Linked DNA regions of Homo sapiens: region 2 is linked to region 1. The links come from fine-mapping of genetic effects on gene expression. Tissue or cell type: ileum. Region 1 holds a variant in brackets; the other region holds the start of a gene. All regions are shown on one strand. Distances are from middle to middle.

Region 1 (8,107 bases):
TAATGTCATTTCTAGGACTCTGAGGTCTTCAGCCACTCTGCTTTAACTTTCCATGGTCTGCTTATAATTCTTTTATGTGCAGTGTCCAGAGTTTTAGTTGTATTTAGTAAGAGGAATAGAAAAATGTACATCTACTCCATCTCTCCATCTTTCTAGAACCAGGAGTCAAACCTCCTTCACCTTCATTTTTGAAGGATTGTTCTCCTGGATATAGAATTCTTAGTTGACAGGTTTGTTTGTTTTCCTTTCTACTCTTTGATTATGTCACACCATCATCCTCTGGTCTCCACTGTTTCTGATCAGAAATCAGCTATTAATCACATTATTGTTGCCCTGTATGTGATGAACTGTTTTCCTCTTGTTATTTTCAAGATTTTGTCTTTCAACAGTGTCAATATGATTTGTCCAGGTGTGGTTTTTTGTTTTTGTTTTTGTTTTTGTTTTTGCAGTTTATCCTAATTGAGGTTCACTGAGCTTCTTGGATTTATAGATAATCTTCATCAAATTTGGGAAATTTTCAGATTTTTCTTTCAAATTTTTGTCCCTTTTGCTCCTCTCCATTTGAGATTCCCTTTACACATGTGTTAAAATTATGTTGGAACACATGATGTTGTTGCACAGGGCTGTCTTGATTTTTCTCTGAAATTTTTTCTGCTTTTTAAATTTTTATGTATTTATTTTGAGACAGGGTCTCACTCTGTCACCCAGGCTGGAGTGTATTGCCATGATCTGGCTCACTGCAGCCTTGACTTCGTGGGCCCAGGAGATCTTTCCACCTAAGCTTCCTGAGTAGCTGGGATTACAGGTGCATACCATGATACCTGACTAATTTTTGTAATTTTTGTGGATATAGGGTTTTGCCATGTTGCCCAGGCTGGTCTCGAACTCCTGGGCTCCAGTGATCTACCTGCCACAGCCTCCAAAAGTATTGGGATTACAGGCATGGGCCACCATGCCCAGCCCTCTCTGCTCATTGGTTTGGATAATTCCTTTTTCTTTTCTTTTCTTTTCTTTTTTTTTTTTTTGAGATAGAGTCTTGCTCTGTCACACAGGCTGGAGTGCATTGGTGCAATCTTGGTTCACCACAGCCTCAACCTCCCTAGGTTCAGGTGATCCTGCCACCTCAGCGTCCCAAGTAGTTAGGACTACAGATGTGCACCACCATACCTGGCTAATTTTTTATTTCTTGTAGAGACATGGTTTCTCCATGTTACCAGGGTTGGTCTCAAACTCCCAGGCTCAAGCGATCCACTCGCCTCAGCCTCCCAAAGTGCTAGGATTATAGGTGTGAGCCACTGCACCTGTCCTGGATACTTTCTCTTGATCTACCTTCAGGATCACTGAATCTTTCTTCTACCATTTCTTATCTGCTCTTGTGTTCAACTAGGGAATTTTTCATTTCAGTTAGTAGTATACTTTTCAATTCTAGAAATTCTACTTGGTTCTTTTTTTAAAATTTCTATTTGATTCTCTATTTGTTGACTCACAGTTGGCGTATTTTATAGCAACTATTCAAATATACTTTAGTTCTTTAAATATAATCATAATAGCTATTTTTAAGTCTTTGTTAAATCTAGCATCTGGGCCTACTTGGGAGTTAGTTTTAACTTAAATACTCATCTTCTTTAGTATGGGTCACACTTTCTTGTTAGTCTGCATGTTTATTACATTTTAGCTGAAAACTAGACATTTAAGATTATACATAATATGCATAATTTAAGATTACATATATAATCTTAAATAATCTTAAATGTTTATATGTTCAGATATATATGTGTGTGTGTGTGTGTGTGTGTATATATATATATATATATATATATCTACCTATATATATAAAGAGAGAAAGAGAGCGAGAGAGAGAGCACATGTATATGTAACAGCAACTCTTGATTACCCTATTTTCCTGAAGGTTTTTGTTCTGTTTTGTTTTGTTTTGTTTTGGTAACTTACCTGAATATAAACTGTAGAATCTCATTCCCCATGGTCTGTACCCACTGATGTCTCTGTTCAGATTTTTTTTTTCAATTCCATTGAGGTCATATTTGTGTTGCATACTTGAACAGCTGACCAATAATTTAGACAGAGGCTATCTCAGATACTTTGAACCCACTGGGCTTTCACCTTTCATGAACCAAGGTGTATGGATTGAGAAATGGCATTCAAAGTGGCAGTCATCTCAAGTCTCCCTGGCTTTCACTTTTTGCTGGGCTCTCTTGGGTCTTCCCTGCTTATGTTTAGTTTCCCAGAAAGCCTAGAAAAGCTTATTTCACACCTTTAATGTCTCTGTTACTTGCGCGATCTCCCTGTTAAATTTCTGGCTGGTCTACCACCCATCACAACTGCTACCGTGGGCTAGTCATGCTGCAGGATTTCCCAAAATATTCTAACGTGAGTCTGCTTTTTTAGCTGACAAAGCCACAGGCTTTCAGTGCCCCCATCCTCCACCCTGAATCAAGTCAATCTTTGGCTGTAAGGCTTTGGTTTTCGCCACCAGTCCTGAACTGACAGTTACATTTTTATTTTAGTTTTAGAGACAGGGTCTCCCTGTGTCACCCAGGCCACAATGCAGTGGTGCAATCATAGCTCACCATAGCCTCGACCTCCTGGGGTCAAGTGATCCTCCCATCTCAGCCTCCTGAATAGCTGGGACTACAGGCATATGCCACCACACTCGCCTAATATTTTATTTTTTTATAGAGACAACATCTCACTATATTGACCAGGCTGGTCTTGAAATCCTGGCCTCAAGAGATCATCCCACCTCAGTCTCCCAAAGCACTGGTATTACAGAAGTGAGCCACCATGACTGGCCTTTTATTTATTTATTTATTTATTATTATTATTATTTTTAATAATAGAGTGTGGCAGAAAGAGGATATGGAATCAGTTCCAAGCAAGAACGCCACATATTCTCACCCATTCTTGGCCAAAGCTATAGAAGTTTCTCAAGAATCAACACTTCTCAATTTATCACCTCCCTTTGGTGGATTTTCAGTTTCCAGTGGTTGGGTGTGTGTTTTTTCTTTACAATTTTGTTCAGTTTTGTACTTGTTTTCTGTATTAGTGAATCACTTGACCTCTTACATTGCAATTACCAAAATAAGAACTCAACCAAATGTAATTAGGATCACAACAAGAATGGAATTTCTTAGGATCCTGATTCTCAACAAGCCAATTACAGAAAAATGTTCATGAGATAATTAAGGACATGTAAATGCTGACTGAGTATTTGATAATATTAAGGAATTATTTTTAGGTTTTTTTTGAGATTTGATAATACCATTATAGTTTTGTTTTTATTATTATTTTTTTAAAAGAGTGTTTAGCTTTTACAGTCACATACTGAAGTGCTTTTTTTGTGTGTTTTGAGACAGGGTCTTACTCTGTTACCCAGGGTAGAGTGCAGTGGCGTGATCATGACTCACTGCAGCCTCAATTTCCTGGACTCAAGCAATCCTACCACCTCAGCTTCCTGAGTAGCTGGGACCACAGACACATGCACCATTTTAAATTTTTGGGTAAAGACGGTGTTTCACTATGTTGCCCAGGCTGGTCTCAAAGTCCTGGGCTCAAGTGATCTGCCCATCTCGCTCTCCCAAAGTGTTGGGATTATAGGCATGAGCCACAGCACCCAGCCACATACTGAAGTTTTCTAGGGAAAAAAGTACATAGTATTTGGGGTTGGTTTTAAAGTAATTCAAAGGTGTTAGATTAAACTAGATTGGATAACTGTTAATGTCCCAGCTTTGTAATGTGTCACCTTGGCTAGACTGAACCTCATTTCCCAGAATTCTCTTCCCTTTATGTTTCTCGTTAGGATGTGCTACAGAAGACATTTACTAAGCAACCTAGAAGACAGAAGAGTAGCAATAGCCATAGTGTTTTTATTCTCAGAAGACTGATACAAGGGATCCAGGCAAGGCTGCAGCTGTTTCTCACTGACCCTATATCCTCCTTTAGTTTCTCTGGGTCCTGGGCAGGTCTGTATTTAGCTCTGTGATGAAGAGCACTAGCTTCTCCTGTATGAAATCCACATCATCAAAGTATTTTTATCATCAGAGACACAGCCTCTGCACATCTTCCTCCTAAAAGAAGCCTCTTTCAATCACCTCAACCATCTTTCGAGAAAGGAACTCTTTGTTTTCAAATATTCTAGAATTTAAAATGACTGACGTCTCTGTTAATTACCATACCATCCATTTGTTGAGAGTATACTAATCCTTATCATCGTATTTCATCCTCATAATCACCCTGTAAAGCAGGAAGTATCATTCTTTTCATTTTAAGGATGAAAATACTGAAGCTCAGAGAGATGAAATAAATGGCATCCCCAAGATCACACAGGTAGCAAGCGAGAGAACCAGGAGTCAAAGTCCATCACACTGTGGCACCTGCAGGCTTATCTCACCCCCGTGCCTAACCAGATAGAGTATCTTCTAGGTTCAGCAGCATCTCTACCCAAAGTACATATTTGTGAAAAATACAGTCAAAATACCAATAATTTGTATTTTTTTTTACCTAATGTCCAACGTGAAAAAATATTTTAAGAGTGAGCAGATGAAACCATTACTTCAAATAAAGCTTTTTGAATTATGTTTAATTTTATTTATCTCTGGGGACAAGGACCAATGAAGAAGGGACTGCAATTAGCATTAGCCTCTCCTGCATGAGAGGAAAAGGTGACGCCCAAAGAAAGGTCAAAGAAAGAAAACTAGAGATCAAATTGGAAAGAAGAGCGCAGTAAAACACACGAATCAAATTAACAACCTCCACTGTATTTTCTCTGTAAAACCAGCATGCCATTGTGGTGATTACCATTTTAGTGAAATGAATGAAAACAGTCATTTCCTCCA[T/C]GCTACTTGTTTCACCCACACCAGATTAGAAACGAAGAGAATTTTTGAAATTGTATTACACTTGCTTATACCACGGTGGCTCCTGATTTTCCAATAATATAAGTCACTTTCAGACCCCAAAGTCTATGGTAACCGTTCTTGCTCCTGGAGTAATACATGAAATCAGGTATTTAAAATACCAGTCTACTTGTAAAATAAATAGCACATAAATAAACAATAGCAGCTAATATTTACCAAGCACATTACAGTTGGATATTGTTTTCTATATTTTTAGTCTTCCAAACAAATTTTTGATACAGATTCTCTTATTGGTATGGCAGACATATAATTGACCATCCAAATAAGGATACTTTAGAGATTGAAAGGTGGAACTATTAACACTTGTGCTAGGCACAGATATAAACCAGGAATGTTTGGACACCCACTCATTGGCCTTATTTTACAGCTAAAGAACTAAGGAACAGAAAAGTTGAATAGTGTGCCCAAGGTCACGCAGCTAGAAAGCAGAGGAGCTGGGCTGAAGGCCAGGATGTCTGGCTTCAGCATCATAGTCGGCCATTCTGCCATGTGCCCCTTCTGAACTAACTCATAGACTGTAACATTTTTCGAATAAATCATTCGACTATTCTAGTTTCAGACACACAAACCTCTCTATAGTTCACGAGTTCCACAAGGCCATAAAAGCACACAATAAAAAGTCTTACAAGAGATTGCAAATAGAAAGTGTCTGCAAAATAACCTGCAGAGACTCCACAGGATGAGCCCAGGCAGGAGGCATCACCACGGGACCTACCGCACAGGCCAGGTAGTTGGGAGAACCAGTATCTAGTCTGGGCTCTATCCTTTCCCTTCTGGCCTGAGTTCCCTCACTTGTGCTCCTCTAGAGACCTTATAGGGTCCTTCCCCACCAACCATTTGATGTGAGCTGGTGGACACATGTCCAAATCCTTTTATCTTGGAGCTTCTCCATCCCAAATTGTTTCACTTCCTTCAAGGAACTTCCCATGGTTTCTTGCTGAGGTGTGAGATAAGCAACTACAATCTTCTTTGAGGTGCCTCATTCGAGGGCCTCAAGTTTTACAGCCTCTCTCCCCACTGAGAGACAGGAAGGAGAGAGAGTAGAAAAAAGAGTGAGGCCCCAGGAGAATGATTAATTCTCTGACCTATATAACAGTAGATACATATGCTCTGTTTAAGAAGCATGAATTATTATAGCTGTGAAACACAAGGCTATAAAGCATCTATGTGCTGAAAACCAGTCAACCTAAACACAGAAGAAGCAACTATTAAGAGAAAACACATATCACATTAGATTTCTGCAACAAAGAAGAAACTTTCTCATCATCTACTGGTAGTGGTAGACTGCCAGATGGAATGCAGTAGACTGCTAGATGGAATTAGCCTCCTAATAATGCAGGTGGTTCTTTAACTTCAGAAAGTGTAACACACTAATATGCAACACAAAGGAACATGCCTGCTCTATCCAATTTCAGATGGATTAGATCTAAATTATAGAGAAATCCGTTTGTTTTATCCTAAGCAATGCATGTTATACAGCAGCATCATCCTAAATGCAAAGGCAACTTCTAGGTCAACTAAAACCAAACCACCACCAACACAGGGTACAGACTACATTCACTGAAAGATTTGCTCCAGAATCAATCACTTATATTGCTTAGAATAACTGTATAAAACTGTCAGTCCTGAGTGCAGGGCCGCATATGGTTCTAAGTATTACTTGAAGTGAGAAAAGTAGACACGGTTTAGTCTCACTAGGGATCTATCACATTCTTTTATTCTCACAATCTTCTGTGTTCTTCAGTGACAATTCATTAGCAAGTTATGAGAGAATAAAGCAATTAGCTTATACCAAATGGCATTTTCACTTAACCATTATTTTCAGAGAACCACTTGAAGACTTCCATGATTTTATTTGGACGTTTTGAAAGTGGATAAGTGCTAAGTGCCCAATTCTGTATGTTCTGCTGCTTGATTAGATGCCATGTTTACTTCCTTTACTGAGTATAAAGTGGAGACTGTCCATGGAAAGAAGTGTTATTTATAATTGCATGCTACCAGATGGCCTATCTCCTTTCCACATCCCTAAAAAGGTCCAAAAAAATGTCTTCCATGGATTAGATTTCAGAGTAAGGTATAATTTCATAGCTTGCTAGCTTATTTCATTTGAATTTTCATTACACGTAAAACATAATACTCATAATTAACATATATCAAATGTTTACTACATGACAGCCTCTACCCTAGACATTTTCTCTGTAGCATCTCCTTGAAACCTCCAATAATCCCATAAAGGGTATTACTATTTCCTCACTTACAGATGAGGAAGCTGGGTGAAAGGTTAACTAACTTGCTCCAGGTTATTCAGCTAGTAGGTGGCTGAGCTATGACTTAAATCCAGGTCCCACTCCAAAACTGCATGCTTTTAACCATCATGCTATACTTCCTCCTTAATTTTATACTTTTATAGCAATAAATGTATATGTATGTAAACCCACCGAGGTGGGTTTGCTTGCTCTTTTAACATCTGCAAGCTCCTTAAGAAAAGAGGATTGTGTCTGTTAGATTCCCAGAACCCAGCATACAAATCTGGCATTCAGTAGCTTGCCAGTAAATTTTGCTGAATGGACAGAAGTATACCCTTACATAAAACTTCTACGTGTGGATATGCATATTCCTATATTAAAAAGGCATCCACACATCCACATGAAAAAAATCACAGCATAATTTGGTAACAAAAAAAGATAACTTAACTATATATTTTCTCTTCTTAATAACCTGGTTTTATTTCCAGATCCTTAGAGAAAGAACAAATGAGTCATACTATGACATGGGGAAGTCACTAAAAGTAAGCTATAGGAATGGGAAATGGCACTATATTACTTTACAGCTCATTAACAAGTCAGACGTCAGATACAAAAACTAGCTTGCCAAATCAATAATTTTTAAAAATAATTTAATGGAAATAAGAGGTTAGGAAGGTAAGAAGGACAAGAAACTGATTTAAAATCTCAAGAGATCAAAAACCATAGGAAAAATTCACTGCCTCCCACTTGCTTTTGGAAGAAGCCACTGTATGACATAGCGATTCCCATCTCTTAAATTATCTTTATATTTATAACAAGTCTTGAGATGCCTGATTTAACATATGTGGCTTGTGACAAAATACTACTACAAGGAAATAAGTAGCTTTTCATGTTTTGTATTTGAAATAACATCTGGAATCCAGTAAACAT
Region 2 (8,107 bases), 72 kb after region 1:
TCAGCTCATACGTAACTTTTTTGTGTAACTTCTCCTTTTCCTTCTTTCCTCTCCTCAACCTTAACATTAAAAGCTAAAGGCTCTTGTTCTGAGTCCCCTCTAATAAAAAATAAAATAAAATAAGCTAAAGGTTCATGAGAAAGCTGGGTGAATAAGAGAAGCATGCTCTCTGGATCTGTCCACAAACTCCTGCCTTATCTATCTATACAGGGCTTATTTATCTATACCATTCTGTCACCCTCCTGCCTCTACAGACAGACACTAATCATAGATGAAATGACATTCAAAGTTTCTTGCAGTTCTGAGCTATATGATTCCTTTAAGCCTCAGTTGCCTCATCTGTAAAGTGGGAGATGATCTCTCTCACAGGATTCTTAGGAGGATGAATACAGCAAAAGAATACTTTACAAATGTTTCTTGAAAAAGTATGTGACCTTCTCTATTCCCAAGGCAGTTTCTCAATACTGTATCCACCAAAAAAGGAAACACAGGTCATTCAAGAAATTATTACAGAATGCCTAAAATGTATAAGGCACGTGGGGGATATAGAGATTAAAACATCTAAAAATGCTTCCAATGTAGAATATCAGACAACTACAAAACTAGCACTACATTAGGGCTGGGCGCGGTGGCTCACGCCTGTAATCCCAGCACTTTGGGAGGCAGAGGCAGGTGGATCACGAAGTCAAAAGATCGAGACAATCCTGGCCAACGTGGTAAAACCCCGTCTCTACTAAAAATACAAAAATTGGCCAGGCGTGGTGGCAGGTGCCTGTAGTCCCAGCTACTTGGGAGGCTGAGGCAGGAGAATCATTTGAACCCAGTAGGCAGAGGTTGCAATGAGCCGAGATTGCACCACTGCACTCCAGCCTGGGTGACAGAGCGAGACTCCGTCTCAAAAACAAAACAAAACAAAACAAAAAAACACTAGCACCATATTGAAGAAAATATACAAGTTGTCATCAAACAACAACAAAATAAGCTATGGGAACTGAGAGGATAGAAAAACTACTTCTTTGTAGGAGGTGGAAAGGTTTCATGGAAGAGACGGCATTCGATTGTGCCTCATTGCCCAGGGAAGCATTACCAGTCAGAAACCTCCTCAGACAGGAAATCAAGACTGACTTTATCCATATGTACAGACATGCCACCTACAATCTTAGCATCCCATGATCCTAAATGCCTTTCAAATAACTCTTCTAAAAGATAAAAGCAGACTAAAACATTTTGCTTCCTTGTTACAAAATCATAACCCACGCAGAAAACTATTAGGATAATTTTCTCAATGAGAATCATATTTTTATAACCAGAGGGAATACACATTAAATTTTTAAACATCTATATTGTTTCCCAGACAATTCTAATCGCCATAACTTTCTAGTGAAACTGAAAATTTCTTGAGGGCAAAGCCCAGTGTTATTTCTCTGTGCCCCTCACCTTGCCACACACACTCATTGTATGAATACACAAAAACAAAAAAAGACTCATCTAAAAAGTGTTACATTAAAAAGTGTGAACATGTCACTCCCAGATCTTAAATCACTTATGTTTCCCAGCACACACCACGCATTTCCACAATGTGCCATGTGTTGATACTATTCTCCTTCTTGGAATGTCCTTGAATCTGGAATTCCATTCCCAGCTCCGAAAAATATTTCCTCCAAGGCCTAGCTCAAATGTGGCCTTTTTTTTTTTGAGGCACTACTCGACTTGTCCATGAAGAATTAATTCTTTCTTCCTCTCCAGGTACTCTGGACATATCCCTCCTATAGTATTCTCACTATAGAAAAATGATACTTATGTGTGTGTCTGTGTGTGTTTGTGTGTGTGTGTGTGTGTGAGAGAGAGAGAAACACCTACCAGAGTGTAAATGCCATGTGGGTAGTGTATGGGTCTTTTTCTGTATGCCCAGCACATAGGATGAATCTTACATAACAAGTGTTATATAGTAATGTGCCAAATAAACATTTGTTTAATTAAACCAAATAAACAGAAAACAAAGAGGGGAAAAAAGGCAGAAACACCACTATGCTCATTTACTTCTCCTGAAATATTGGAGTTCCTGAATTTAGAATAAATGGTAAAGTGTCAGAATTAGACCAAAGTCATCTGCACATGAACTAAAACATTTGAAACCAAGGAAAATAGAGAGATTAAGAACAGCCTCCTATGACGTCATTGTCTTGATAACAAGACTGCTTCAGTTTCAGTCATTAAGTTCAGCCCTTGAAGGCTTGAAGGTATATTCTCATCAACCACTAATTTGTTAATAAATTGAGATGCCCCTAAGCATTGTAGAAAGCAGACTATAAGAACTGGCCAAAGATGGCCCATATAGCATCCAGTCAAGACACAAAACCACTCTATAGGGATGAAAAATGTACATCTTGTAAATGTAATCCAAAAGATTCTAACATCCACATCCCATTCTGGAACCCAGAGGAAAATAGAATGTTTAAAAATGAAAAATGTTCAATGCTTGCCAGAGGAATCTAGATAAAATTTTGAGACAGACCAATGTATATATGCAAATGAGATGGCTGCCCTATTAAAAAATAGATAAACAGATGTAAGGATTTCTCCTTAGAAAGAGGGACAGACTGGCTTGGCGCGGTGGCTCACGTTTGTAATCCCAGCACGCTGGGAGGCCAAGGCAAGCGGATCACAAGGTCAGGAGATTGAGACCATCCGGGCCAACATGGTGAAACCCCATCTCTATTAAAAATACAAAAATTAGCTGGGTATGGTGGCGTGTGCCTGTAATCCCAGCTACTTGGGAGGCTGAGGCAGGAAGGAGAATCATTCGAACCCAGGAGGTGGAGATTGCAGTGAGCGGAGATCGCGCCACTGCACTCCAGCCTGGTGACAGAGCGAGACTCCGTCTAAAAAAAAAAAAAAGAAAAGAAAAAAGAAAGAGAGATTGATTATCAATTACCAGGCAAGTTAGAGAGGAATTAATATCAAGTATGGCCAATACACACTAAAACAGTAATCAGGAGTCTTCAACACACAAAAGATAAACAGTACTGCAGGACATGCTCTAAGGGTAACAGGAAAAAAAGTAAAGGCCAAAAATTATACAGGATGGAAAAACAATGAGAAGCCCAGGTATCAACCTCCTACACTCTACACCTGAGAGACTAAATCATGGTCCTGACCCCATCACCCTCACAGTCCAGTTGGGGAGAGACATCAGCAGAAAAACATCTTTAATAATTGTTATGTCAGAATAAACACATAACTACTGAGGCAGGATACGGAAATATTGAAGGGGAGAGAAAGAGGAGATCAGGTAAAACCTACTGTGGATGTTACCTCTCACCTAAGTCCTAAATATTGGTCAGGATTAACCCAAAGGAAAGAAAAATGGAATGGGAAAAGGATAGTGTCTGCTAAGTAAACAAGAAGGAGCACTAGTTTAGGAGTCAGAAGACCTGACCTTTAGACCCATAAGTTGTTTCGACAACACATCAATATGCAAAATACCGGGCAGACAGATTGAAGTAACAGTTATTTCTTTCTTTCTTTTTTTTTTTCGAGACGGAGTCTCGCCCTGTCGCCCAGGCTGGAGTGCAGTGGCAAGATCTCGGCTCACTGCAACCTCCGCCTCCCGGGTTCCAGCAATTCTCCTGCCTCAGCCTCCCGAGTAGCTGGGATTACAGGCGCCCGCCACCACGCCCGGCTAATTTTTGTATTTTTAGTAGAGACGGGGTTTCGCCATGTTGGCCAGGCTGGTCTCGAACTCCTGACCTCGTGATCCGCGCGCTTCGGCCTCCCAAAGTGCTGGGATTACAGGCATGTGAGCCACCGCGCCCGGCCAGTAAGTTATTTATATATCCCGGCACCTAACACATACAGGCGCTAAGCAAGACAGATAAATAATAGCAATAAAACAACTACAGTTTGCTTAGCCCTTCCTAAGTGCTAAAGTGCTAAGAATAGCAGGATAAACAATTCAAGCCCTTGTCCTCAAGCAGAGTGTACTCGAGGAGACTACAGATAAGTATACAACAACCCTGGTGAAGATACTGAGACCCAGGATCCTAATTTATTCCGTTAATAAGAGAGGAAATGGTGATTTAAACCATAATTTGATTGCCTTAAAATTATGAGATCCTCATTAAGAGAACAGGTTGGAGGGAGAAAGAAATAGGGGGTAAAGAAGTAACAATAACCCTCAAACCAAACTCCCTAATGGTCAATTAAATGGAGTCTTCCGGTGAGGCACGGAGAAGGAACTCCTCATACGGGAACAGCAGGTGCTCGATTTGGGGTGTGGTTATAACCTTTACTTCCCTTCCTACTAGTGCCTTGCTTTGCCTACTCCAACCCCGTCCAGGAACCGAGCAGCCCCCACCCGCCTCGGAGGAATCGATGGAGCACCTTTGAGTGCGCGAGTTGCCGCTCTCCGGGTACGGGGCCCGGAGCGTTAGCCTCCCGCGAGTATCGGTGAGCGGCTGCCGAACTGCCATGGGCGCCAGGCCGCTGGGGCGTGCCGCAGCCGCAAGAACCCGCAAGGGACCCCGCGCCCGCACCGGTCCCGGCCTCCTGGCTCCCTGCCGCTCCACACAGCAGCGAGAGCAGCAGCAGCAAGAGGACGAGACCCAGCTCAGGGCAACGTCCACACACCAGCCCTAGTGCGGGCGCAGCCATGTTGTCCCGCGGGCCATGTGACCCGGTTGGTCACGTGGCTGAGCCCTCCTTAAAGGGGCAGAATTTTGAGCTGACTTACGAAGTGACCAGGAGAGTTGCTCTTCACCTTTCTTCAGGTACTTCTTTGGCGCTGCTGCTTGCCTGTGCTAACGTCAAAACGCAGCAAAACACAAAACTCCACAAAACTCAAGGCCTTCCACAGACCGTGCACCCCTTTATGATTTCTTGGTTGAAAAATAACAGTCAAATTTGCTGGGCATTTGGTAAGTGCCAGAGTACTATGCTAAGCACTTCACTTTTTAAAATCTCATTTAATCCTCACAAAGACCCAGTAATGGCGCGCTTGTAGTCCCAGCTAGTCGGGAGGCCAAGGCAGGAGAATCGTTTGAACCTGGGAGGCGGAGGTTTCAGTGAGCCCAGATCCCGCCACTGCACTCCAGCCTCGGCGACAGAGCAAGACTCCGTCTCAAAAAAAAAAGAGAAATACAATACGGAATCAGAATCCGTGGGGACTGGACACAGCAATCCAGGGTTTCACAAGCTCTCCAGATGATTCTAATCCACACTTAAGTTTAAGAACCACTGTTCTACAGTTCCGTAATCGAACAAAATGCAAAACCAAAACAAAAAGAAGATGAAGGAGAAACTTACAGATTAAAAAACAACATAGCAGGCCGGGCGCGGTGGCTCAAGCCTGTAATCCCAGCACTTTGGGAGGCCGAGGCGGGTGGATCACGAGGTCAGGAGATCGAGACCATCCTGGCTAACACGGTGAAACCCCATCTCTACTAAAAAATACAAAAAATTAGCCCGGCGTGGTGGCACGCGCCTGTAGTCCCAGCTACTCGGGAGGCTGAGGCAGGAGAATGGCATGAATCCGGGAGGTGGAGCTTGCAGTGAGCCGAGATGGCGCCACCGCACTCCAGCCTGGGGACAGAGCAAGACTCCATCTGAAAAAAAAAAAAAAAAAAAAAACATAGCAGCCAGCTGCAATATGTGAACCTTATCTAAATACTAATTCAAACCTACTGAGTTCAAAATTTTTGAGATAATCAGGGAAATTTAACCACTAAGTCAAATTATAATATTTGATAAAATTAAGGAATTGCTGTAAATTTTGTTTTTAGGCTTTTAGGAGTAATAATGGTATTTGTGGCTATATTTTTTAAAAGAATCCCCTCACTGAGGTACACACACACTCACTGAGGTATACACACACACACACACACACACACACATATATATATATGGATAAAAATATAGGCAGTCAAAGATTTGCTTCCCAAAAAATGGGTAATCAGGGTCTGGCTAAAGATGAAGCATGATTGGCCATGAGTTGATAACTGTCATAGCTGGTTGATGGGCATCTGGGTGTTTATTGCACTATTCTAATGTAGCATCTGTTTGAATTTTTTTAGCATAAAGAAAAGACCAGCCAGGCACCGTGTCTCAAGCCTGTAATCCCAGCACTTTAGGAGGCCGAGGCAGGAGAATCGCTAGAGGCCAGGAGCTTGAGACCAGCCTGGGCAACACAGCAAGACCTTGTCTCTACAAAAAATTAAGAAAATTAACTGGCCATGGTGACGCACACCGGTGGTCCTGGCTACTTCGGAGGCTGAGGCAGGAGGATCACTTGAGCCTGGTAGGCAGAGGCTGCAGTGAGCCATGATTGTGCCACTGCACTCCAGCCTGGGTGACAAAGTGAGACCATCTCTCAAAAAAAAAAAAAAGGCCTTTTCTCCTTGTTGACTATTTTACAGTTTGCCAAGGCCTTTCACACATTTTCTCATTTGAGATTACAACCACTTGGCAAGAAATGTATTATTACTATACTCATTTCAAAATTGATGAAGCTAAAAGGTCAATGCCTTAACCAAGGTTGTATGTATTTACTGTGCATAATATATAGTCAAGGTCTAGGTCAACGGTAATCTTTGTTCGCCTCCTTCAAATATCAGTCTCAGCACATGCTGTGTCAGCTGCGCTTCAGAGACCTGAACTTCTTTGATTCCTGGTCCAGCTATACCATTAGGCTATAACCTCCATGAAGGTAAGGCAGGAGCCTATTCGTTTGCCACTGTATCAGCAAAATCAGGCCAAGCCTGCACATGATCACTCAGTGAACATTTATTAAATTATGGATAAGTGAATGAACAAATGAAGTAACGATTATCTCTTTCTCTTAAGGGGAATCAAATTGTGGAGAAAATAATATAGGTCTTAGACTCACAAAGAGCTGTGGTTAAAGCTGGCCACTTTACATGAAGTATGACCTAGGCAAATTATTTCAGCTTTCTGAGCCTCTATTTCTTCGTGTGTGAAATGGGAATAATAATTCCTTTTTCTTATAGATTTTATGGGGATTAAATAACACAAAGTATATAAAAGGTGTAGCCTGGTACCTGACATTTAACATATCTCAAAAATAACTTTGCTATTACTAATCATTATGAAAGATGGAACTTTGTTGGTTCTCCAGGACGATCATTCTTTTGTCTCAGGCTAACTTTTTAGTCAATAATCAATGAGTATGAGATCGATGAGAGATTTCTCATCAATATTTTCCACTCTAATATTTTGCTCCTGTCAGTGAGGAGGCTTGTTCTAAAAATTAAGAGGTAAAAAGTCCAACTCAGCCATCAGCTCGTACGAATTAGTGTAATTATATAAAATATCTCTCACCCTCCGTCTCACGTGTGAGCTCCTTCTGCATTTTGTAGCCTTTCTTGCTCCTTCTATCTCATGAAGCTGGGAGGATGAAAGACCCCAGTCCTGAAAGCAGCTTGTCTGCTCACTGAACATCAAAGAGTTCAGCATGGCTACAGTGGAGTGAGCAAGGGGGAGAGAAGAAAGGAAAGGAGATGAGAAAGGTAACATTGGGCCAAGTCATGGATGAAAGGAGAACAGAAAGGTAACATTGGGCCAAGTCATGGATGTTCTGGTAAGCTTTTACTGTGAAAGTTGGTGCCACTGCAGTTTTGAGAAGACATCTGACACTCTTCCTGCTGAGCAGCATCAATTTTCCCTCCAGGTTAGAGGCTTCTCTTGCTTTCTGGTTCCTGAACACAGGGAATGCAAAGTGCCCTGATGGTAGCCATGGCTTGTAGTTCAATGGGACCCTGGTTGTGTCCACAGAAAGACAGCATCCCTTTGTGGATCAGGACCTGCAGCTCTGCAGAGCTCAGAGTTGCAGGGATGGGAGAACAAAATCCCAGTAAGTCAGTAGGAGTAATAGTAAGTGGGGCTACTTCTACTTCCACCTCTTGGTGGAACCTATATATTCTTCCTACGTGGGAACAAGTCTGACATCTCTAATTGAGGGCGTATACTGCATCCTTATAGATGGCCCCATCTTTGCAGGAAATTGCATCCAAGCTGGCGTTTCAGCTGTGCTTTCAGTAAGCCATTTTCACCCTTTATGAGGCCAGCTGCTTTGGGTTCGTATTGTAAGGGA

The links. PIP is the estimated chance that this variant, and not a neighbour inherited with it, causes the effect.
Region 2: SUMF1 starts here. The variant in region 1 is fine-mapped to the expression of SUMF1 in ileum (GTEx, PIP 0.96).

The regions. Positions count from the first base shown.
Region 1 is chr3:4,390,821-4,398,927 of GRCh38, forward strand. The region is part of intron 7 of SUMF1 (sulfatase modifying factor 1); the gene reads right to left. Among named protein-coding and RNA genes, the nearest start is that of SUMF1, 72 kb to the right of the region's middle. RefSeq lists an enhancer at 3,265-3,559. The variant T/C (reference allele first, on the strand shown) is at 4,854.
Region 2 is chr3:4,462,593-4,470,699 of GRCh38, forward strand. SUMF1 (sulfatase modifying factor 1) reads right to left here and starts at 4,677. Exons shown (of 9, transcript NM_182760.4): 1 at 4,384-4,677. The coding sequence starts at 4,653. It overlaps LOC124909340 (a long non-coding RNA gene), which reads left to right and starts at 4,232. Exons shown (of 2, transcript XR_007095789.1): 1 at 4,232-4,916; 2 at 6,072-6,807. RefSeq lists a silencer at 4,374-4,553 and an enhancer at 4,724-4,903.